Homo sapiens: one gene and its partners. The protein of the gene in region 7 purifies or fractionates together with the protein of the main gene of each other region. This does not show direct contact. Each region holds a gene or a part of one and is shown on either strand. Other genes may lie near its edges.

What was found.
Region 1: the proteins of RUVBL2 (region 7) and DKC1 purify together in Homo sapiens (affinity purification with mass spectrometry; 7 studies listed by BioGRID and IntAct, with this or other methods). This does not show direct contact.
Region 2: the proteins of RUVBL2 (region 7) and SHQ1 purify together in Homo sapiens (affinity purification with mass spectrometry; 4 studies listed by BioGRID and IntAct, with this or other methods). This does not show direct contact.
Region 3: the proteins of RUVBL2 (region 7) and WDCP purify together in Homo sapiens (affinity purification with mass spectrometry; 7 studies listed by BioGRID and IntAct, with this or other methods). This does not show direct contact.
Region 4: the proteins of RUVBL2 (region 7) and HDAC1 purify together in Homo sapiens (affinity purification with western blotting; 4 studies listed by BioGRID, with this or other methods). This does not show direct contact.
Region 5: the proteins of RUVBL2 (region 7) and NOP58 purify together in Homo sapiens (affinity purification with mass spectrometry; 5 studies listed by BioGRID and IntAct, with this or other methods). This does not show direct contact.
Region 6: the proteins of RUVBL2 (region 7) and ACTL6A purify together in Homo sapiens (affinity purification with mass spectrometry; 11 studies listed by BioGRID and IntAct, with this or other methods). This does not show direct contact.

Annotation. Positions count from the first base shown.
Region 1 is NC_000023.11:154,775,527-154,778,189, reverse strand, and holds the end of DKC1 (H/ACA ribonucleoprotein complex subunit DKC1), read right to left. Parts: intron 2,004-2,663; coding exon 1,866-2,003; intron 1,392-1,865; coding exon 1,323-1,391; 3' UTR 501-1,322; downstream 1-500.
Region 2 is NC_000003.12:72,751,612-72,754,445, reverse strand, and holds part of SHQ1 (protein SHQ1 homolog), read left to right. Parts: intron 1-2,834. UniProt on the Homo sapiens protein: Required for the quantitative accumulation of H/ACA ribonucleoproteins (RNPs), including telomerase, probably through the stabilization of DKC1, from the time of its synthesis until its association with NOP10, NHP2, and NAF1 at the nascent H/ACA RNA.
Region 3 is NC_000002.12:24,037,392-24,040,891, forward strand, and holds part of WDCP (WD repeat and coiled-coil-containing protein), read right to left. Parts: intron 2,122-3,500; 5' UTR 2,104-2,121; coding exon 286-2,103; intron 1-285.
Region 4 is NC_000001.11:32,295,083-32,298,582, forward strand, and holds part of HDAC1 (histone deacetylase 1), read left to right. Parts: intron 1-3,500. UniProt on the Homo sapiens protein: Histone deacetylase that catalyzes the deacetylation of lysine residues on the N-terminal part of the core histones (H2A, H2B, H3 and H4).
Region 5 is NC_000002.12:202,282,763-202,286,262, reverse strand, and holds part of NOP58 (nucleolar protein 58), read right to left. Parts: intron 1,919-3,500; coding exon 1,782-1,918; intron 1-1,781. UniProt on the Homo sapiens protein: Required for the biogenesis of box C/D snoRNAs such as U3, U8 and U14 snoRNAs. Part of the small subunit (SSU) processome, first precursor of the small eukaryotic ribosomal subunit.
Region 6 is NC_000003.12:179,565,926-179,569,425, forward strand, and holds part of ACTL6A (actin-like protein 6A), read left to right. Parts: intron 1-3,500.
Region 7 is NC_000019.10:48,996,887-49,000,386, forward strand, and holds part of RUVBL2 (ruvB-like 2), read left to right. Parts: intron 1-2,432; coding exon 2,433-2,487; intron 2,488-3,500. UniProt on the Homo sapiens protein: Possesses single-stranded DNA-stimulated ATPase and ATP-dependent DNA helicase (5' to 3') activity; hexamerization is thought to be critical for ATP hydrolysis and adjacent subunits in the ring-like structure contribute to the ATPase activity.

The DNA of each region.
Region 1 (2,663 bases), on a different chromosome or scaffold from region 7:
CTCAGCCTCCCGAGTAGCTGGGATTACAGGCACACGCCACCACACCTGGCTAATTTTTGTATTTGTAGTAGAGATGGGTTTTGCCATGTTGGCCCAGGCTGGTCTCAGACTCCTGACCTCGGGTGATCTGCCCGCCTCAGCCTCCCAAAGCACTGGGATTATAGGTGTGAGCCATTGCACCCGGCCTCTTTCTTGGTTCTTAATACCAAATCGGAAGCAACCCTAGACCTTTCTTCCACTAATCTGTCACCAAGGCCTTCAGATTCCTGCATGTCCCCACCCTCAGCTTCGTTCTCCCGACTCACCCTGCCCCCCGCTCCTGCCAGGCCCACTATGTATAAATACATTAACCCTCTCCTTCTCTGTTCTTCTAGAGATCAGTGGTTTTGTGGTAATCACTGCCTCTGAGTACTTGATCTCACATCAGATGACAGGGCCCAAGGTGGATTGTGTAAGATACAGAACAAAAATGTAAAAACCAGAAAACAAACATAAAAGCATCACATTTCAAATAGGACATAAAGGTCCCTAGATTTTTAATCAAAATATTTTACAATTTTTGCTCTGCTAGCATGAGATCAACAAGAAAACCCAACAGGAATACATAAAAAACTTAACAAGTTGACTTTAATAAGTAAAAATTACAACATTCTTCTCCCAGCAATGAACAATTTCATTTTTTAAAAGTAAACGAGGCCTAAAACAAGAGGGCACAGGAACAAGTAGTCAGATGGATTTAGGTGAGCACTGTACACAAGCTTTGAGGAAGTGCAAAGGACTGACCTCTAGGCCAGAACAAGATGGAAAACTACCAGGCCCATCAGGCCTATAACCCAGACACCAGCATGGACAAAACTCAGTTATACTGAATTCAGAGACAAAATTCAGTGACACTCTTCTACCACTTATTTAGGGTTCTACAGCATTTCACTGAGCAGACTTAGTTTTTTGTTTTTGTTTTACAAACCTTTTAAACAGAGGGGATTTAAAAAATGCAAACTAGGACTACGATGTTAAGACAACCACTAGCAGACAGCTGCGGACAGTTACTGGGTCTGAAGGTGAGGCTTCCCAACTCAAACAGAGAAGTCATTGGGATAAACTCTGCCTCTTTCATCTTTCACCACCCATATCCTTAAAACAGGACAAGATGGGATGACCACACCAGGTAACATCACCGAGGTCTCAAAGTAGCAGCTAAAATGTGCCAGAACTCTTCACCCTGTCTAGGACCTATGTTCCACTCTCTCAGCAACAAAAGGATCTATAACATGTTTTCTCAATAAGGCTTTAGTTTCTCCTCCAGCTTCAAGTGGCCTTCACTACTCAGAAACCAATTCTACCTCTTTTGCTTTCTTCTTCTTCTTCTTCTTCTTGGTGGTATCACTGTCCTAGAAAGAAAGAGAATGAAAGCTCACAGATACCATCCACTAACAAAGCTATGACTCTCCCAGAAGGAAATCTGGTAAAGGTCCACAGTCAAGCAAGCCTTTTTCAGGACCTGTAAGGATATTTTGGGTTAAATGCTGCATGTGACACAAAGTTCTGTAAACCTTTCAGTGACACCCTAGTGGTCTACTTTTGGAAGTGGAAACATTCAGATCACCATCCTACACATCCTCTCCACCCACCATCAATAGAGCTCTAAGTATAAGTGGTAGAGGTCGGGTGCCTCTATCTGTCCATTCCACAGGGAGGGCAAAAGCACTCCAGGAACATGGGGAAGCACTAAAGGCACTCGGTGGCATCCCACCCCCAGGCCACAGCTCCTCCAAGAAGAGTAACAAAGCTGGTACCACCTGGGTAATTCTTTCCCCACGCAGGGACTAAGCCAGCCCAAGGAACCTGAACGTGTTTCCACACACCCCATCTCCAGGCTCGGCCCCGCTCTCCAGACCAGCTTTGGCCTTCTTGTCCTTCTTACTCTTCTTCTTTTCCTTCTTGATCAACTGAGGAGCTGCTGGAGGAGTCTCGTCACTTTCACTCTCACTCTCTCGCTTCCGCTGAGATGAAAGCAATTGGTTAAGTGTTAGATCTTGGGCAATAATGGACAAGAAAGGTTCAGTGAGTCAAAAGGTAGCAAGGCACCAAGAAAGATCCCAACTGAATCTAACAGGACGTTTTCTGACTACAAACCCGGACAGGGCCTTAGTTTACTGAGGATTTGAAGACAGTCTCATCCCCCAAATCCAAGAAGCCTTGAGGCAGGCACAAGAGAAGGAGCACAGCAGCAGCACGGGGCTTGGGGTGGAAAGGCCCGGAGGAGCTGTTTCTCTCATGACTGCAAGGACCTCTCACAGAAAGCAGGCAAAGCAGGAATTCACATCTGACAAGTCAGAAGCTCCTCCCACACAGCCTGTGCAGGATACTCAGTACCGCCCCCGGTTTCTGAGTGCAGACCTGTCATTCTGTGCTCTAATGCCAGCAGCTCCATGGGGTGGAGTTGCCAACCCATGCTTGACTGACTCTTTCAACACTGGGTGGTGCCAGGTTAAGATGCAATTCTGCTCTCTGCTGAATTTTGTATGGCCTCGAATGTCCAACAGCCATGGCCTCTGATTTCAACACATCTGTCCTACCATTTGACCCAGGGCGGGGGCCAGAATTGACACACACACCACCACCCATTCCATCACTGTGTTGCTGCCATAGCTGAGGTAGGA
Region 2 (2,834 bases), on a different chromosome or scaffold from region 7:
CGTGCTGTTGCACTCCAGCCTGGGCAACGAGAGTGAAAATCCATCTCAAAAAAAAAAAAAAGAAGAAGAAAAAGAAGAGAAGAACACTTTGCAGAGCCTGTATATTCATGGGAGGCCCTTTGGTGGAACGGGAAGAGGGCTGGAGTTTTGAGGCTTGGGTTTCCAGTCGTGACCGCCCCTTGTTGGCTGAGTGAACCTCAGCGGCTCTCCTACCCCTGCAAGCTCTAGTTCCCTCATCTGTAATGTAGGGATAACAATGGCACTGATTCACAAGGTGGTTAATGGAGCAAGTGCAGTGATGTTAGTGGAGCATCATCCTTTGTATATTGTTGAGAAGTATTTGTCATGACAATTAAAATGAGATATATAGTCAGTAAAGTAAAAGCTTTTATTTTATATTTTTTATTTCTAGTATTAGAGTTAGAGGCAGTATCCACTTTCCCAAATTTATTACTCTTTATTTCTTAAGTTGTGTGTCACTACCCAGAGAGAACTCCCCTTCATGGAGAAACAGAGTGGTGTACTAGTTCTTTGACTGAACTTTGCAGCAGCTCAGACTGAATCCTTTACCACTGGTAGTCAAGGTTTCAAAATATATGGTGGACATTATCTACAACTGTCTTGGGTATAAATGCAAATTATGTTGCAGCCGTCATATTCCATAGCTATGCTTTTAAAAATGCCTCAGACTGATAAAAGATTAGCCAGGGGTTATAATGCTTTGGTGAATCATTAACTGACTCTAGTGGATCTCACCTTGGTTTTCCTCTTTACCCTAAACCCCTCCCTTTCTCTAAGCGCTCTGGAAGTTCTGGCACTGAAACCCAGGGCTAAGAGAAAGCTACCCATCAACGATGGTGACTGCCCTTGTCCCACTCACCGCACTGTGCCTCCCGCTCACCCTTGGACACTGCAGTGGTGCTTCTGTGGCCTGATTACACATGTGAAGAGGCAGCAGGGGTTGTGGGGGGTGGGGGGCAATCCCTGCACAATCTCATTATTGTGCTGAGTACTTTGAGAAATAGCATTTCAGGTACATGCAGGCACCCAGATTAAAATACCATCTTTGTTCGGTATTTCCCATTGTACCATCAGCTCCACTGAAATGAAGCCTCATTTTCCTGATATTATGGGATGGACTATACTTTTACAAATGAATTTATCTTGTAAACTCACCGTCATCCAGTTTGTCTCAAAGCCACTCAATGTTTTGTATGTTCATTTAATCTTTGGAGTCAGGGAAACATAGAAACCATGTCAGCATGTTTACCACTTTCACTCACTGTCACCTTTCTTCAGTTGTCACATCAGATTTCCCCTTAAGAATAGTAGTCATCTTTGGAGAATGCCAGTTTGTGTCATGTTGGTTCTTTTAGAAACAAAAAACAACTAAATGCATCCAAGTTAATAATGGAAAAGTTTATTTACTCGATACAATGTAATATTATAAATCTAGCAGGTAATTTAGAGGAAAAGCGTCTTCGGCTGGTCATGGTGGCTCACGCCTGTAATCCCAGCACTTTGGGAGGCCGAGGTAGGTGGATCACGAGGTCAGGAGATCAAGACCATCTCGGCCAACATGGTGAAACCTCATCTCTACTAAAAATACAAAAAAAATTAGCTGGGCCTGGTGACTCATGCCTGTAATCCCAGCACTTTGGGAGGCCGAGGCTGGCAGATCACGAGGTCAGGAGATGAAGACCATCCTGGCCAACATGGTGAAACCCTGTCTCTACTAAAAATACAAAAAAATTAGCTGGGCATGGTGGTACGCGCCTGTAGTCCAAGCTACTCGGGATGCTGAGGCAGGAGAATCACTTGAACCTGGGAGGCGGAGGTTGCAGTGAGCCGAGATCACACCACTGCACTCCAGCCTGGCGACACAGTGAGACTCTGTCTCAAAAAAAAAAAATCTTCTGAAATAATATGAAATGGTTTTCTCATAAAAAGAAAAAGCACTCCATGCTGCTGATATTGCTTTTCCTCCTTGTACATTTTAAGATTATGAACATTTATATAGGTTTAAAAAATAAAACAATAGGCAGTGAAAAGGCTCCGTCACGCCATCATCCTGTGTCATCCCCCATATTTCCAGTTCCCACCTTATCTCCTTTACAGAAGTTACTGTTTTCTGTGACTTTGGAGAGTTTATTAAGAAGTATACAAGCAAATAGAAATATCTGTTTTGATATCTTTCCTGTTATTTTCCCTTTTTATATATATGTAGCATATACATATGGTGAGCCTTTTGTGTTGCTAAGCAGTAAGTCTGGATTGGCCCATGGAGAGCTTCATTCATTGTACAGCTGTAGGCTATTCCGTTGTATGGATATGTCATAACTTATTTCACCAGTCAACCAGTCTTATAACAAGGACATTTGGCTGTTTCCCATTTTTAGGTATTAAAAAACGATGTCATAGTAAATAACCTCAGACCTATGTCATACATGACATAGGTTTACTACATGTGTTTAATTTTCAGACATGGGGCTTTCTGGGTCCAGGGTATATACATTTTCCATTTTGAAAGTTATTCAGACATGGGGCTTGCTGGGTCCAGGGTATATACATTTTCCATTTTGAAAGTTATTGCCAAGTTCTCCTTCATGGGGATTGTAGCTATTTAATCTCCCTGCATCAGTATATGAAAGTGCCTTTTCTCCTGCAGTCTTGTTAACAGAATAATATCAAATGTTTGGGTATTTGCCAATAAAAAATATATCTGACATATGACTTTAATTTGTATGTCTCTTATTTGACTGGAGTTGAACATCTAATATATTTAAGAGTTACTTATATTTCCTTTTTTGAAAATTGTCTGCTTGTATCTTCTG
Region 3 (3,500 bases), on a different chromosome or scaffold from region 7:
ATGATTTTTTTTCTAAATATAAATTGCCCGAATTAGTGCAGACATTTATTTTTCCACGTCATGCACCTGATAAAATCATGATGCAGACTGATATGTGCGCCTATCTGGTTGGCAGGCTAAAAACCAACCAACCTGCAAAGGTGTACCAACTTGCCTGTAACATAACATGCCCAGCTTAGTGAAGCTCAGTTAGAGCACCATCTTCCTCATCAATACGTTTCTTGCAGTACTCACCGGCTGCAGGAGCTTTTATGTATAGTGGTAGTTCCTCAAAGGAGAATTTACCTGGTAAATGATGTGAACATAAGGAAGATCTTGAGAGAGTGGATACACTGAAGAGGATTTCTTCCCATTATGCAGACGGTTTGTAAGTTCAGAAAGACACCGTTGCATTTCAACCAGGTTCCTAGATAAAATTTCCACTTCCTTAGACAGCTGATAAGTTTCCTTTTCACTTTGTAAGTTCTTTCTTTGAGGCAAACGAGGAGGCTCCAGTGTGCTGGTGTGGTCTGGTGTGCTGCTGTGTCTGGGCAGCGATGCTGGCTGGGTAACAGGCTCAGCATCTAGAGCTATGGAGCCATCACAGATACTAGACAGAGGACTCTGGATTTCTTTAATAAGTGTTCTTCCAGGCCTTCCATTCTGACTACTGGTATTAACTGTCAGCAACAGCCCTTTGTTTTGGTGACAAAAATCTGGGGAAAGACTTTCAATTAACTTTTTTCTATTTGCTTTATTTAACGGAGCACTGAAAGTAGAGTAGGTAGTCTGGCTTTCACCTGATGTTATTGAAGGTTCTTCTTCCAACATTATTTCTCTAACAATCAAGCTAATGGCATACTGATCAGACTTTGAAGAAGGAAGAAATGTTGTATCAGTGAGTTTTTGTTTTCCTACCAAAATTAGTAATAGTTGGTCTGTCAAGAAACATATCCCTTTTGGTCTTTCAGTGTTCTCTAATCGAATTTGCTGGATGTTTGGGACTGAAGATGGAATGACAGAGTAGATCAAAATTATATTACAAGTGTTGGAAGCCACTGCCACTACGTGGGCTTTAAGATTAAATGCTATCAGATCAGGAACCAGAATGCCTGGAATAGTGACTTTTCTCGTCATGGTAACTGCCTTCTTAAAGGTCACAAGGACCAAATGTGAAGAATCTTGGCCAGTTCCTGTCAAGTAGTCCTTTTTTCTTAGACAAATAAGAGAATTACCCTCAGACTTATGTTGATTGAAATGTATGTGAGTTAGATCCAGAGGTTCTAAATAGGAAGAAGAAACTGATACTTCAGAATTTGTTTCAGAATCAGTTGCCTCTTTATCCATAGAGCGTACTTCACCAATAACTGGTAAAGCATACGGAGTCATGTCTTTACTGTTAGGTGGGATATTAAAGGTTTCAGATGCATTTAAGCCACAGATCTTATCCAATGGAAGCTCAGTAGCTATAGCAACCTGTGAGTCCACAGTTGCTGTGATGGAGCAGACGTGGCTGTCCACATCAAACACCAGGCAGGAGGAGCACCTGTGAAGAGTCTTCTGAGCGCTGTCCCAAATATAAGAATGCAGGCTGCTGCCTACTGCCACCACCAGCCTCAGGCCATCCTGGGTCCAACATGCACAGTGAATGCGGCCCTGGGTGTTGATGTCTGCCTTTACCTGGGAATCATCAGAGTGAACATTAGGGAAAATGGAGACATCCTGAGCAGTCAACACAGTCAGAATAGCACATTTTGGGTGCCACACACAGCCCTGGGGAAGGATAGGTAGTGATCCTCTAATCTCACAAGTCTGAGACGTCAGCCATTTGCTTGACTCCATAGGGCTGGGACACAGCTGCCACACAGTGACATGCTTCTCATGCTGGACAGCGAGTAGAACAGGTGTATCATCTGCAACAGGTGGGGCCCAGGACAACCCACAGACACATTCAAACTGTCCAATGACTTTGGAGTCCCCAAACTTGACCTCTCCACTGTGAAGCCGCAAATCAGTTAGGACAACTTGATTCCCATCGGTCCAGGCAAGGCCATGGATCGGATGCACTGCTTGATGCAACGCATTCAGTCCAGTCCTGAGTAGTTTTCCTTTTCCCAACTCCATCCTTTTGATAAAGGTTACCTGAAATGATTAAGAAGGAAAGTTACACCATGAGAAATCTAGACAAATCTAGAATGTAGGACATTTGGTAAGACAACGGCTTAGCCCCTTCCCAGGTTAATAATGTGGAGAGACAAAAGGACAGGGGGAGTATTATAAATTAAGAGACTACTGAGCTATCAGGCAAATGCAATGTATATACTTTGGATCTTGAAGAAATAAAATCTTCTACCTAATGAAGATTTTTAGAACTGGGGAAATCTGAGTATGGAATGGATATCAGAAAATATTGTAGAGTTATTATTTTTCTTCTTTTTTTTTTTGAGACGGAGTCTCACTCTTGTTGCTCAGGCTGAAGTGCAATGGCACAATCTCGGCGCACTTCAACCTCTGCCTCCTGGGTTCAAGCGATTCTTCTGCCTCAGCCTCCAGAGTAGCTGGGATTACAGGTGCCTGCCACCAGGCCCAGCTAATTTTTTTTTTATTTTTAGTAGAGACGGGGTTTCACTATGTTGGCCAGGCTGGTCTCAAACTCCTGACCTCAGGCAATCCACCCACCTCAGCCTCCCAAAGTGCTGGGATTATAGGCATGAGCTCCCGCGCCCGGCCAGAGTTATTAATTTTCTTAAGTGTGAACATGGTATTGTGGTTATGCAGGACAAGGTCCTTATTATTTAAATAAGCATGTTGAAGCACTTGGGGTAAAATGTCATGATGCCTACAATGTGCTTTCAAATGGTTTGACAAAAAAAACCCAAATTTTCTATAGACACACAGAAAGAAAACAAATGTAGCAAAATGTTAATAATTGTAGAGTCTAGATTGAGGCTATGTTAGTATTTATGGTACTTTCAACTTTTAAGTTAGAAAATTTTCCAATTAAAAATTTAAGAAAAGTCTCCTCCATCATCTAATTTCTATTCGTCCTTTCACTGCCAAATCAATGAATAACTGATATGCACATCTCTGACTTTATTAGCACTTATTTCAAATCCTTCCAAAGTGGCTTTTATCCCTCTATTGAAATGACACTCAAAAATCACTGTTTCTATTTCTACTTCTACTTCATCTTATTCAACAGCACTTAATAATTTTCAGAACATTTTCACATTCCCTATTGCATTTTATCTTACAATAATCTTTTAAAATAATGTAAAGTAGGTTAGGCAAGTATTATCTTCATTTTTTCACCCTGAATATTTTTCCCCCAGGCATTTGAATCACTAAAGAAGCATATGCTTAGGGCTGGGCGTGGTGACTCACGCCTATAATCCCAGTACTTTGGGAGGCTGAGACGGGAGGATCACCTGAGGTTGGGAGTTCGATCCCAGCCTGACCAACATGCAGAAACCCCATCTCTACTAAAAATACAAAATTAGCCAAGTGTGGTGGTGCATGCC
Region 4 (3,500 bases), on a different chromosome or scaffold from region 7:
CAGTATCTTAGTCTGCTATAACAGAACACTGTTTATAAAGAACAGAAATTGCTGAATGTGGTGGCTCACGCCTATAATCCCAGTACTTTGGTAGGCTGGGGCGGATGGTTCTCTTGAGCCCAGGAGTTTGAGACCAGCCTGGGCAACTTAGGGAGACTCTGTCTCTACAAAAAGTAAAAAAATTAGCTGGGCATGATGGCATGTGCCTGTAGAGAGGCTGAAGTGGGAGGATCACTTGATCCTGGGAGGTCGACTCTGCAGTGAGCCATGATCGCACCAGTGCACTCCAGCCTGGGGGACAGAGTGAGACCTTGTGTCAAAAAAAAAAAAAGAACATAAATGTATTTCTCATAGTTCTGGAGGCTGAGAAGTCCAAGGCTAGAAAGTCCAAGATCAGGGTGCCAGCATTTGGTGTCTGGTGAGGGTCTGGTCTCTACTTCCAATATGGTGCTTTGAATTCAGTGTTTTCATATGACAGAAGGTGGAAAGGCAAAAAAGGATAAACTCTGTTTTTTTATATGGCCATTAATGTATTAGTGAGGATGGTAGAGCCCTTGAGACCTAAACACCTCCCAAAAGGCTCCACTTCCAAACACTGTTGGCATTGGGGAATATGTTTCCAACACATGAATTTTGGGGGACACATTCAGACCATAACAATCAGCATATGGATAGTTATTTTATTTGTTTGTTTGTTTGTTTGTTTGTTGTAGAGATGTTGTCTTGCCATGTTGTCCAGGCTGGCCTTGAAGTCCTGGGCTCAGCCTCCCAAAGTGTTGGGATTATAGGCATGACCCACCATTCCTGGCTGCTAGCAATTTTAATTGTAGTAAATTTAGTCATAAAGGATGCAGTCACCCAATAAGTTATATAGAATTCCAGGGTGGAATTCTAAGGAAGTGGATTGAGGAAAAGTTTAGTGCCCCTCATGCTGTGTACTCCCCCGTGATAGTATTTGTCACTGTGTAGAGGAATTGCCCATTTACTTGGTCATATTTCTTGTAGAGAGGAGGCTCTTTAGGGAAAGGGGCCGTGCCTTGTCTACCTCTGTATCCCCAGCACCAAAAACAATGCCTAGCTCATGGTAGGTTCTCAATAAATATTTGTTGATTAAATGTATAATGATAGAGAGTGAGGGGCCGGAGAGGTAGGTGAACCAGAAAGTACTGGGTTGCAGAAGCTAAAGAAGGGAGGGATTGGGCAAGTGTTGGCGGCAACTGGGGCAGAAGCTAGATTGTGGTAGATTGCAGTACATGGATGGCTAACTGAAGAGGAGACATCAGGTTGAACCCTTTTTTTGGAGACAGGGCCTCACTCTGTCACTCAGGCTGGAGTGCAGTGGCATGATCCTGGCTCACTACCACCTCTGCCTCCCAGGCTCAAGCAGTCCTCCCACCTCAGCCTTCCAAGTAGCTGGAACCACAGGTGTGCACCCTTTTTGTATTTTTTGTTTAGAAGACAAACGGTTGTCTTTTGTTTAGAGACAGGATTTCGCCATGTTGCCCAGGCTGGTCTCAAACTCCTGAGCTCAAGTCATCTACCCGCCTCAGCCTCCCAAAGTGCTGGGTTTACAGGCGTGAGCCATCATGCCCAGCTGGTTGAACCCTTTTAAAGGGAAGCTTGTGTGAGGTAGGGAGAGAGGATTGTTGATAAGGGAGATGGAGATGTAGTGGCTAAAAGTTGAGCATATTGAAATAATTCTTATGGAAAATAGCCAGAAGAGAGGGAGAGGCTGAAGATACAGGAAAGGGACTAGTAGTGATGGAGCTTCCTGAGGAGACCAGGGGAGATGGAAACCGGAGCCCAGCTAGAGACACTAACCTTCAACAAATTCCTTTGTGATGCGAGGGTAAATGTCAAGGAAAAGTTCAAATGGAGGTAAGTTTGAAGAGGAGAAGATAAGGAGAAAGTTGAGGGAGTTCTCAAGATCAGGAAAGAGAATATTCCTTTTCCTGAGGGTGGGGTAGGGCAGTTGGTGGAGCAGGAATCTTGAAGAGAGGAGATTTAAATAGCTTTTGCAAAAGTGGGGGGCTAGGGAAAGAAATTTGGAAGGATTGCTGGCAGTGATAAGAATCATTTTGAGGCTGGAACCTGTGATTTTTGTAGTCATATCATTTTGCACAGTTTTATGATAACATTTTATGATAACATTGTCAGTTTAAAAGAAGAAAAAAATGGGCTGGGCATGGTGGTTCACGCCTGTAATCCCAGTAGTTTGGGAGGCCAAGGCGGAAGGATCACTTGAGACCAGGCGTTCAAGACCAGCCTGGGCAACAAAATGAGACCTCCCCCAGCTCTACAAAACAACACAAAAAAATAAGCTGGGTGTGGTGGCACTTGCCTGTAATCGCAGCTACTTGGGAGGTTGAGGTGGGAGACTGAGGCAGGTGGATGGTTTGAGCCCAGGTGGAGCCTGCAGTGACCCATAATGGCACCACTGCACTCAGCTTGAGTGACAAAGCAAGACCCTGCCTCAAAAAAAGAAAAAGAAAAAGTACAAAGACCTCAGTCTTTAGATAAGGGAATAGACTTCTTTTTTTGCGGGGGGGACGGAGTCTTGCTCTGTCGCCCAGGCTGGAGTGCAGTGGCGCCATCTCGGCTCACTGCAAGCTCTGCCTCCAGGGTTCATGCCATTCTCCTGCCTCAGCCTCCCGAGGAGCTGGGACTGGAGGCGCATGACACTACGCCTGGCTAATTTTTTTTTTTTTTTTTTTTTTTTTTTTTTGAGATGGAGTCTTGCTCTTTCACCCAGGCTGGAGCGCAGTGGCGCGATCTCGGCTCACTGCAACCTCCACCTCCCAGGTTCACGCCATTCTCCTGCCTCAGCCTCCCGAGTAACTGGTACTACAGGCGCCTACCACCACACCTGGCCAATTTTTTGTATTTTTAGTAGAGACGGGGTTTCACCGTGTTAGCCAGGATGGTCTCCATCTCCTGACCTTGTGATTCGCCCGCCTCGGCCTCCCAAAGTGGTGGGATTACAGGCGTGAGCCAGCGCGCCCGGCCTTTTTTTTTTTTTTTTGAGACCAAGTTTTGCTCTTGTTGCCCAGGCTGGAGCGCAGTGGCGCAATCTCAACTCACTGCAACCTCCGCCTCCCAGGTTTAAGCGATTCTCCTGCCTCAGCCTTCCTGAGTAGCTGGGATTACAGGCATATGCCACCACGCCCGGCTAATTTTGTATTTTTAGTAGAGACGGGGTTTCTCCATGTTGGTCAGGCTGGTCTTGAACTCTCGACCTCAGATGATCGCCTGCCTCGGCCTCCCAAAGTGTTGGGATTACAGGCGTCAGGCACCGCGCCCGGCCATTTTTTGTATTTTTAGTAGAGACGGGTTTCACCGTGTTAGCCAGGATGTTCTTGATCTCCTTACCTCATGATCCACCCGCCTCGGCCCAAAGTGCTGGGATTACAGGCGTGAGCCACTAGGCCCAGCCGGGAATAGACTTCTTACTTGAGAAACTGAGTTTTGCAGTGAGGTCATTACTTTGGGATTCAGATTTG
Region 5 (3,500 bases), on a different chromosome or scaffold from region 7:
AAAGTGCTGGGATGTATTACAGGCGTGAGCCACTGCGCCTGGCCTATAGTGTTTCTTTCTCCCTTTTTTTTTTTTTTTTTTGAGATGGAGTCTCACTCTGTCACCCAGGCTGGACTGCAGTGGAGCGATCTCCACTCACTGCAAGCTCTGCCTCCCGGGTTCACGCCATTCTCCTGCCTCAGCCTCCCAAGTAGCTGGGACTACAGGCGCCCGCCACTGTGCCCGGCTAATTTTTTGTATTTTTAGTAGAGACGAGGTTTCACCGTGGTCTCGATCTCCTGACCTTGTGATCTGCCTGCCTTGGCCTCCCAAAGTGTTGGGATTACAGGCGTGAGCCACCGTGCCCAGCCTGTAGTGTTTCTTTTAATATTAGCTTAAAATGTCTTTTGAACTGTGGTAATAATTTTATTAGGATTACTATTTGACAGTACTGATTACAAAGTTGCACAGGTTTTGAGCAACTACCTACCATTATTTTCTTCACAACCCTGTTAACTGTAGTGCAATTCCAAAGTATTAAGCTTTTCATGAACAGATGTATCACAACATAGCAATAATGCCTATTCTAAGGGACTTCTAATGAAATATGATAGGGTTAACATGCAATTAAAAATAGGGAGAAGACTGGGCATGGTGGCTCACCCCTGCAGTCGCGGCACTTTGGGAGGCTAAGGCAAGTGGATCACTTGAGCCTGGGAGTTCCAGCCTGGGCAGCATGGCAAAACCCCGTCTCTACAAAAAGTTAAAAAATCAGCCAGGGATGGTGGCGCACACTTGCAGTCCCAGCTACTTGGGAGGCTGAGGTGGCATTGTTTGAGTCCAGGATGTCCAGGTTGCAGTGAGCCAAGATCGCACCACTGCACCCCAGCCTGAGCAACAGAGTGAGACCCTGACTCAAAAAAAAAAAAAAAAAAAAAAAAATGCCGGGTGTGGTGGCTCATGCCTATAATCCCAGCACTTTGGAAGGCCAAGGCGGATGGATCATTTGAGGTCAGGAGTTCAAGATCAGCCAGGCCAACATGGTGAAAGCCCGTCTCTACTAAAAATACAAAAATTAGTTGGGCAGTAGTGGTGCACGCTTGTAATCCTAGCTACTCGGAGGCTGAGGCAAGAAAATCACTTGAGCCTGGGAGGCAGGGGCTGCAGTGAGCAGAGATCACGCCACTGCACTCCAGTCTGGGCGACAGAGTGAGAATCTGCCTCAAAAAAAACAAAACAAAAACAAAACAAACAAAAAAACACAGAGAGAGACATATTTCTTGCTATGTTGCTCAGGCTAGTCTCAAACTCCTGGTCTCCCAAAGAGTTGGGATTACAGGGGTGAGCCACTGCACCTAGTCCTCTTTGCCTTATTAAAAATCAGAGTAAAGCAATGAAAACACAAATACACACCTATCCCATAAGACCATAGCAGATGAGAGAATTTGGGGGAATACTAAGTAGATGGAGGAGTGGCATGACTTAGCAGAGATAAAGGAGGGAAAGCCCAAGAAACAGGGCATCCAAGATCAGAGTAGTAGAGAATTCCTTTGATGAGGTTTTAAGGTTTTAAGAATCCAGACAATAGAGCCAGACTGCCTGGGTTCAAATCCTGGCTTTACCACTTACCAGCTGTATTGACCTTGGGCTTCAGTTTCATCTGTAAATGAGGATATTACTATCATCTTCTTCATAAGGTTCTGATGTGGTTCAAATGAGCATTTGTAACATTCTTAGAACAGATCTATGTTAAGCGCTTATCAAATAAAAGTAAGTTGACTTTATTTTCCAGTAATTCTCACCTGTGAGCCAATCCAAGACACATAGCTGCCATTTCACGTGGTTCTACCCCAGGGATTAATCCATCCATTTGTGAACGAATTCCTCTCATAAGTTCATTAACAACAGGACTATGGATACAACTGAGATTCAGCTTTTCCTACAAGAACATGAACATCTATATTAAATTAAAAAAAAAAAGACTTTCCTGAAGTTGTTATTATTATTTTTTGAGACACAGTATCACTCTGTCGCCCAGGCTGGAGTGCAGTGGCGCAATCTTGGCTCACTACAACCTCCGCCTCCTGGGTTCAAGAGATTCTCCTGTCTCGGCCTGGGATTATTGCAGGCATGAGCCACCATGCCCAGCTAATTTTGTATTTTTAGTAGAGACGGGGTTTCACCATGTTGTACAGGCTGGTCTCAAACTCCTGACCTCAAGTGATCCGCCCGCCTCATCTTCCCAAAGTGCTGGGATTACAGGCATGAGCCACCGCGCCCAGCCTGAAATTATTTCCTAAATATTAAAGTGGCACTAATTTAAATATACGCATTTCTCAGTTGGACAAGAAGCATAATTTCCAGTGTGTTTGTAGAATACTTGACTGTATCACTGGTGGAAGTAAAAACTGATACAAGCTTCCAGAAGACAGCTTGGCTATATAAATTAAAAGCTATAAAAAGATTAATATAATTTGACCAAGTAGTTGGTTTAAGGAGATCTTTTACTACCTGTTATTTAGCTTCTTTTTAAAATTACAGGTTATGCCAGGCGCGGTGGCTCACGCCTGTAATCCCAGCACTTTGGGAGGCCGAGGCGGGTGGATCACAAGGTCAATAGATCGAGACCATCTTGGCCAACATGATGAAACCCCGTCTCTACTAAAAATACAAAAATTAGCCGGGTGTGGTGGCAGGTGCCTATAGTCCCAGCTACTCGGGAGGCTGAGGCAGGAGAATCACTTCAACCCAGGAGGCGGAGGTTGCAGTGAGCCAAGACTGAGCCAATGCACTTCAGCCTAGCGACAGAGTGAGACTCCGTCTTAAAAAAAAAAAAAAATTACAGGTTGGGCGTGGTGGCACATGCCTGTAATCCTAGCACTTTGGGAGGCCAGGGCGTGTTGGCGGGCGTCTGTAATCCCAGCTACTTGGAAGGCTAAGGCAGGGGAATCCCTTGAACCCGGGAGGCAGAGGTTGCAGTGAGCCGAGATCATGCCACTGCACTCTAGCCAGGGCAACAGAGTGAGACTCTGTCTCAAATAAATGAAATAAAATAAAATAAAATAATTAGCCAGCATGGTGGCATGTGCCTGTAGTCCCAGCTACTGAAGAGGGAGGATTGCTTGAGAACAGGAGGTCAAGTCTGCAGTGAGCTGTGAGACTGCGCCACTGCACTCCCAATTAGCTGGGACTACAGGCGCCTGCCACCACACCCGGTTAATTTTCTGTATTTTCAGTAGAGACAGGGTTTCACTGTGTTAGCCAGGATGGTCTCGATCTGCTGACCTCGTGATACTCCTACCTTGGCCTCCCAAAATGCTGGGATTATTATAGGTGTGAGCCACCGCGCCCCGCCCGAATTGTTCTGCTTTCTGTATTTGGGAGGCTATTTTCCTAGTCTTTCTTTCCACTCTCACATTTTATTTCATCTCCAGCAATACACCCCTACTAAAAGTTTTCTAATAAATATATTTCTAAAAAATATAAGGACCCCATTTTCGTTGGAAAAAAATGTGGCTAGA
Region 6 (3,500 bases), on a different chromosome or scaffold from region 7:
ATATCTGTAGGGAATTGTAGTTTCCCGGTTGAGATAAGAGCTCGATTGAAGGCAGTGGCAATGGTATTAAAAAGGAGGGGATTTGAGAAATACTTAGCAGAAATATTTGGCAGAACTTGAAAGATGGAGGTGTTCACAAAAACTCTCAGATTTTTGCCAGTGTGGACTGGTGGTCAGCAATGTGTTAGGCAATGCTGAGATCAGCAGTGCTTCAGATGTGTTGAATTTGAGATACCCATGAGGCATCAGATGCAATTATGTTGATGTACAGTGAAAAGTTCAGGATATGGATGTAGACACTGGTTAGAGCTTGAGAGAGAGAGAGATTTGAAATTGGAATTATCAGTATTTAGGTAGAAGTTGAAGCTATAGGAGTAGAATATATTACCCAGGAAAGGGTAAATTAGGGAAGGAGCTCCTAACATAGGGTTTGTGGCCTTCCCAAAGTTTCCATGGTAGAACTATATTTTATTATAATTGGCTTCTTTTATAAACATTTAAAAACATTCTAAGAAGGGATTCATAATTTCCTAAACTGTATTAGTTTGTAGGGCTGCCATAATAAAGTACCACAGTCTGTGTGGCTTAAACAACAGAAATTAGTTTTCTCACAATTCTAGAGGATAGAGGTAGATCTAAGTGTCAGCAGAGTTGGTTTCTTCTGAGGTCTGTCTCTGTGTGTAGATGGCCATCTCCTCCTCTGTCTTCACATGGCCGTCCCTCTGTACAAGTCCAAGTCTGAATTTTCTCTTTTTGTTGTTGTTGTTGTTGTTGTTGTTTTTGAGACTGAGACTTGCTCTGTCACCCAGGCTGGAGTGCAGTAGCACGATCTCAGCTCGTTGCAGCCTCCGCCTGCCGGGTTCAAGCAATTCTCCTGCCTCGGCCTCCAGAGTAGCTAGGACTACAGGTGCATACGGCCACGCCCGGCTAATTTTTTGTATTTTGGGTAGAGTTGGGGTTTCACCATGTTGGCCAGGATGGTCTTGATCTCCTGACCTCGTAATCTGCCCGCCTCTGCCTCCCAAAGTGTTGGGCTTACAGGTGTGAGCCACCGCGCGCCCTGCCTGAATTTTCTCTTAAAAACATCACTCATACTGGATTAGGACCCAATCTAATGATTTCATTTTAACTTAATTACTTCTTCAAAGATTCTGGTTTCACCGGGCATGGTAGCTCACGTCTATAATCCTAGCACTTTGGGAGGGCAAGGCGAGTGGATCACCTGAGGTGTGGAGTTTGAGACCAGCCTGGCCAACATGGTGAAACCCCATGTCTACTAAAAATATAAAACCTAGCCGGGCTTGGTGGCCAGCAGATGTAATCCCAGCTACTCAGGAGGCTGAGGCAGAAGAATCACTTGAACCCCGGAGGTGGAGGTTGCAATGAGCTGAGATTGTGCCATTGCACCCCAGCCTGGGCGACAGGAGTGAAACTCTGTCTCAAAACATAAAAATAAATAAATAAATAAAGAATAAAGACTCTGGTTTCAAGTACAGTCACATTCTGAGGTACTAGGGGTTAGGATTTTGACATATGAATTTTAGGGCGACACAATTCAGTCCACAACACTGTCATAAGGGTCCATAACACAGAACAGGTTAAGGGCTCCTGGCGCAGGGCAAAAGATAAATCCTTGAGGAACAGAAGTTGAAATTTTTGGTTAACTATACAATTAATTCATTTAATTAGGATATCTCTTTACCCAGCATTCTGGTTAATAAAAGTATTAAATTTTACCAACTCATATTCATTGCTATACTTACGATTTGTACTCAAGTTTAGGTGCTGTGGTGAAAACAAATACAGTGTTCTCCTTTTAAGGACCCCCTAGTTTCTGACAAAATAATTTGGACCAGAGAATTTCACAGGGAAGGGTTAATTATCTTGAGAAATGTAACAAATACGTAAACTTTCTTTTATATTAGAAATTAAAATATGTCTCTGTTTTATTTGAATAAAAATGAGAGGCTGGGCGCGGTGGCTAACACCTATAATCCCAGCACTTTGAGAGGCCAAGGCGGGTGGATCACGAGGTCAGGAGTTTGAGACCAGCCTGGCCAATATGGTGAAACCCCATCTCTACTAAAAATACAAAAATTAGCTGGGCATGGTGGTGCGCGTCTGTAGTCCCAGCTGCTCAGGAGGCTGAGGCAGGAAAATCTGTTGAACCTGGGAGGTAGAGGTTGCAGTGAGCCGAGATCACGCCACTGCACTCCAGCCTGGGCAGCAATACAGCAAGACTCCGTGTCAAAAAAAAAAAAAAAAAAAGAGATCATTCTGCAAAGCTACTGTCTCTTAACTGATACTTGCAAAGTAATGGGTTTGATTTTAAAAATTTTAAGTTTTTGAAATATTTTAAACATATTAAAAATATGTAAGTTTGTATGTGATATTACTGTAATCACCTGTAAGTTTGTATGTAATACAATACTGCATTCACCAGTGAGATTAAATAGATGTCATATTTTGCCATATTAATACCTCAGATATTTTAAGAATAAAAATGTTATTGATACAGATTTCCTCTCTCTCCCTTCTTCAGTTCATGTAACCACTGAACTGAAGTTGGTATGTAACATTCCCAGACCCCATGCATATTTTCTTTTTTTTTTTTGAGACGTGTGTGTGTGTGTATATGTGTATATATGTATGTGTATACATATGGTTTTTTGATAACTAGCTTTTAAAACTAAGCATTCTTTTAGATTTATTGATGCTGACATATGTAGATCTAAAGTGTTCATTTGAACTGCTGTACAGGATTCCATTGTGTGAATATATTATTGCTTATCTATTTCCCTGCTGAGAGACCATTAGATTATTTCTGCCTTTTCCTATGGCAAGCAGTGTGTCAATTATAATAGCAGCTTACACTTAGCATGTGTATTTTCTAAGACTTCATATACATGAAAGCACTTAACATGTTTAATCATTAGAGTATCCTGTGAGATAAGAGCTATTATGTACATTTTACATATTAGGAAACTGAAGCAGAGAGGTTAATAAATTGCTCAGTTCTTGTAGCTGTTGAACATTCTTTTGCATGTCTCCTTGCAACCTGTATGAGAGAGTGTCTCCAGAATAAGTAAGTGTAATTCTATGTATGCACAATTTCAACTTTAATAGATATGACTAAATTGCCCATAGTGGTTGTCCCACTTTGGACAATAAATTATAGAATCACCCTAGTTGATGGTGGAGGGAGGTTGCTGGTATATTTATTAGCCTGGTTCATTCACCTCAGGGTAATCCATGGCTAACTGCATCCCCTCTACTAAAAGTCACAGCTCCTGTCAGGTAGCCCTCCCCATACAACTTTCTCTCCAGATTCTGATAACAGTTATTTCTTCTTGTTTCTTCAGTTTGAAGAATGGCAATGGATCCATTATTATTAGTTATCATTATAGTACTGGGGTACTGTACTGTCCCTTCTGGTTGTCCTGTATTTCACCTATATCTTTGCAAATAATTCCCTTTAATAAGTAAACTGAAATTACCCA
Region 7 (3,500 bases):
CCCTGACCTCAAGTGATTTGCCTGCTTCAGCCTCCCAAAGTGCTGGTATTACAGGTGGGAGCCACTACGCCCAGCCTGTTGTTTTTTTTTTTTCTTAATAGCTTTATTGAGATAGAATTCACGTACTACATAATTCACCCATTTAAAGTATACAGCTCAGTGTTTTCTAGTATATTCACAGACTTGTGCAGCCATTTCCACAGTCAATTTTAGAACATTGTCGTCACCCCAAAAAGAAACCCCATGCCTCTTACCTGTCACCGCTAATCCTTCCATACCTCCCATCTTCAGTTCTAGGCAGCCACTAATCTTTCTCTGTATATGGATTTGCCTATTGTGGCTACTTCATATAGATGGAATCATACCATATGTGTCTTTCGTGTGTGGCTTCTTTCAGTCAGTATAATGTTTTCAAAGTTCATCCACGTTGTAGCATGTATCAGAACTCCATTCCTGGCCGGGCGCGGTGGCTCACGCCTATAACCCCAACGCTTTGGGGTGCCAAGGCAGGTGGATCACCTGAGGTCAGGAGTTCAAGACCAGCCTGGCCAACATGGTGAAACCCCATCTCTACTAAAAAATACAAAAAAATATTAGCCAGGTGTGGTGGCGGACACCTGTAATCCCAGCTACTCGGGAGGCTGAGGCAGAAGAATCACTTGAACCCAGGAAGCAGAGGTTGTAGTGAGCCAAGATTGCGCCATTGCACTCCAGCCTAGGTGACAGAGTGAGACTATGTCTCAAAAAAAAAAAAAAAAGAAAAGAAAAAAGAACTCCATTCCTTTTTATGACTGAATAATATTCCTTTGCACAAATAGACCCTGTTTTATTTTGCCATTCATCAGCTGATGGACATGTGGGTTGTTTCTATCTTTTGGCTGTTGTGAATAGTGCTGCCGTGAACACTCGTGTCCATGTTTTGTGTGGACCTCTGGGGGGGTCCTGAATTGTCCCGGGTGGTGTTTACTCACCTCCCTCCCCCATGTGAGAAGGGGTGGTAGCTGGCTCCTCTCTGTGGAGAACTGTCAACATGGGAAGCCTCGGTATATTCTTGTTGAATGAGCTCAGCACTTTAGAGTATCACTTAGCAAACCACAGACATTGAGTCCCGAGGTGAACAAGAGAGAACAGGCCGTGCCCTTCATGGGACTCATGTCCACTGGAGCAGAGAATATTGATCCATCCATCTCCCTCGGGAATGTGAGATCACACAGGGAGATCGGGCTCCCAGGGAGGCCTTTCATCTGTCTGAATGTCTAGAGGTCCTAGAACTAGCCTGGCAGGGCTGTTGGACAGAAAGGGCCTCCCCTAGGGGGCAGCACTTGATCTAATTCAGTGAGAGGGCAGGGAGAGCAGTCTGGACTCAGGGGCCAGCATGTGCAAGGCCTGGTGGTTGAGAACTGGGGCCGCCTGGTACAAGGGATGCTGGGAAATTAGCAGGGGCCAGAGCATGTCCAGCTCCATGCCTGCTCCTCATTGGTGTCTGTCCTTATGGAGCTCACAGTTATTAGAAATGGGGAGGACTTGTCTGGGCACGGTGGTTCACACCTGTAATCCCAGCACTTTGGGAGGCCTTGGTGGGCAGATCACTTGAGGTCAGGAGTTCGAGACCAGCCTGGCCAACCCCAGTAGAGATGGGCGAAACCCCATCTCTATTAAAAATACAAAAAAAATTAGCCAAGTGTGGTGGTGTGCGCCTGTAGTCCCAGCTACTCAGGAGGCTGAGGCGGGAGAATCGGTTAAACCCAGGAGGCGGAGGTTGCAATGAGCTGAGATCGGGCCACTGCACTCCAACCTGGGCGACAGAGCAGACTCCGTCTCAAAAAATAAGAAAAAAAAAAAAGAAATGGGGAGGACTTAGCCGGGCACAGTGGCTCACGCCCATAATCCCAGCACTCTGGGAGGCCAAGGCTGGTGTATCACTTGAGGCCAGGAGTTTGAGACCAGCCTGGCCAACATGGCAAAACCCCATCTCTACTAAAAATACAAAAATTAGCCGGGTGTGTTGATGCGCGCCTGTAATCCCAGCTAGTCAGGAGGCTGAGGCAGAGAATTTCTTGAACCCAGGAGGCGGAGGTTGCAGTGAGCCGAGATTGGGCCACTGCACTCCAGCCTGGGTGACAGAGCGAGACTTCATCTCAAAAAAAAAAAAAGAAACAGGGAGGATTTCATTCATTCACCAAATAACCAAATATGTGCTGGACCCTGAGGACCAAGCTGTCGATGAGACAGACAGTCCTTGTCTTCCTGGGGCTCAACCAACCAGCCATTAGGCAGTGACAGGCAAGAGGGGTGGGGGTGACTGGTGCCTGTCCCATCGCCTGCCTGTGAGGGGAAGGAGTGGAAAGGACCATCTCATGGGAGGGACAGAGGAGGGGTTGGTGAAAGCTGGGACCACACTAGTCCTCTGACACATCTTCTTGCACCCCCAGACAGCCACAACCAAAGTCCCGGAGATCCGTGATGTAACAAGGATTGAGCGAATCGGTGAGTGAGTTGGGTCAGGAATAGGACCTAAGCCCTGCCTGCCATGTGCCCTGACAGAGCAAACCTATTGAGGACCCCTAAGATGGAGAGGGAGGTGGCCTGCACACCAACTGTGCCCCCACTACCATTCCCCCACTCGCCCTATCTAATGGGGGAGGAGGATCCTCAGTTCCAGAGTTGGGTCAGATGATGCACTGGGGACCAGGCTGCTATCCTGGCTATCCTGGTGGGGTTCCCGGGTATGTTTGCCTGGAAGTCATAGATATTTACTGGGTGCTTTACTGGGTTTGGCCTCGTATACCCAGTACACACTGTGGGGTGAGTTCCCTGAGGGCAGGGACGAGGTCGTGTCATTCCTAGCTGTGTCCCTAGCACAGGACCTAACAGAGCAGATGATCAAGAGATAACCATTGAATGCACGAGTTTGCGTCCTGTGGAGCCCTCGCAGTAGCCGCATGAGGTGCATATTGTAACTGTTAGCTGAGGGAACTGATTTTCAGGACAGCTAAATCACTGGCCCCGGCTCACACAGAGCAGGAAGTTGAGACGCAGTGAGGCCAGCAGGGTGCGCTCTCACAAAGAGCTTTACCGGCAGGGAAGTGACCGCATTCATTCATGCAGCAGGCTCACTGATTCAGGGCATCCGAGAAAGGCAGTAAGGGCTTCTGGCTGTGAAGATGGGTTTTAGAAGCCCAGTGCTGGATTCCTGGAGCTTAGCTCTGCCACTTTCCCACCATGTGGCCAGGGACTAGTTCCTCTCTGTGCCTCAGTTTCCTTATCTGCAAGACGAAGCTAAGATAGTTTACCTCATCAGTTAATGTAAGATTCAGTAAGGTAGTTCATATAAAGCATTTTGGGTCTGTGTGCCAACACTGTTTCATCTATTAAAAGTGCTGGGGCACTGGGTGCAGTGGCTCATGCCTGTAATTCCAGCACTTTGGAAGGCCAAGGTGGGCGGATCACCTGAGGTCAGGAATTTGAGACCAGCCTGGCCAACATGGTGAAACCTCGTC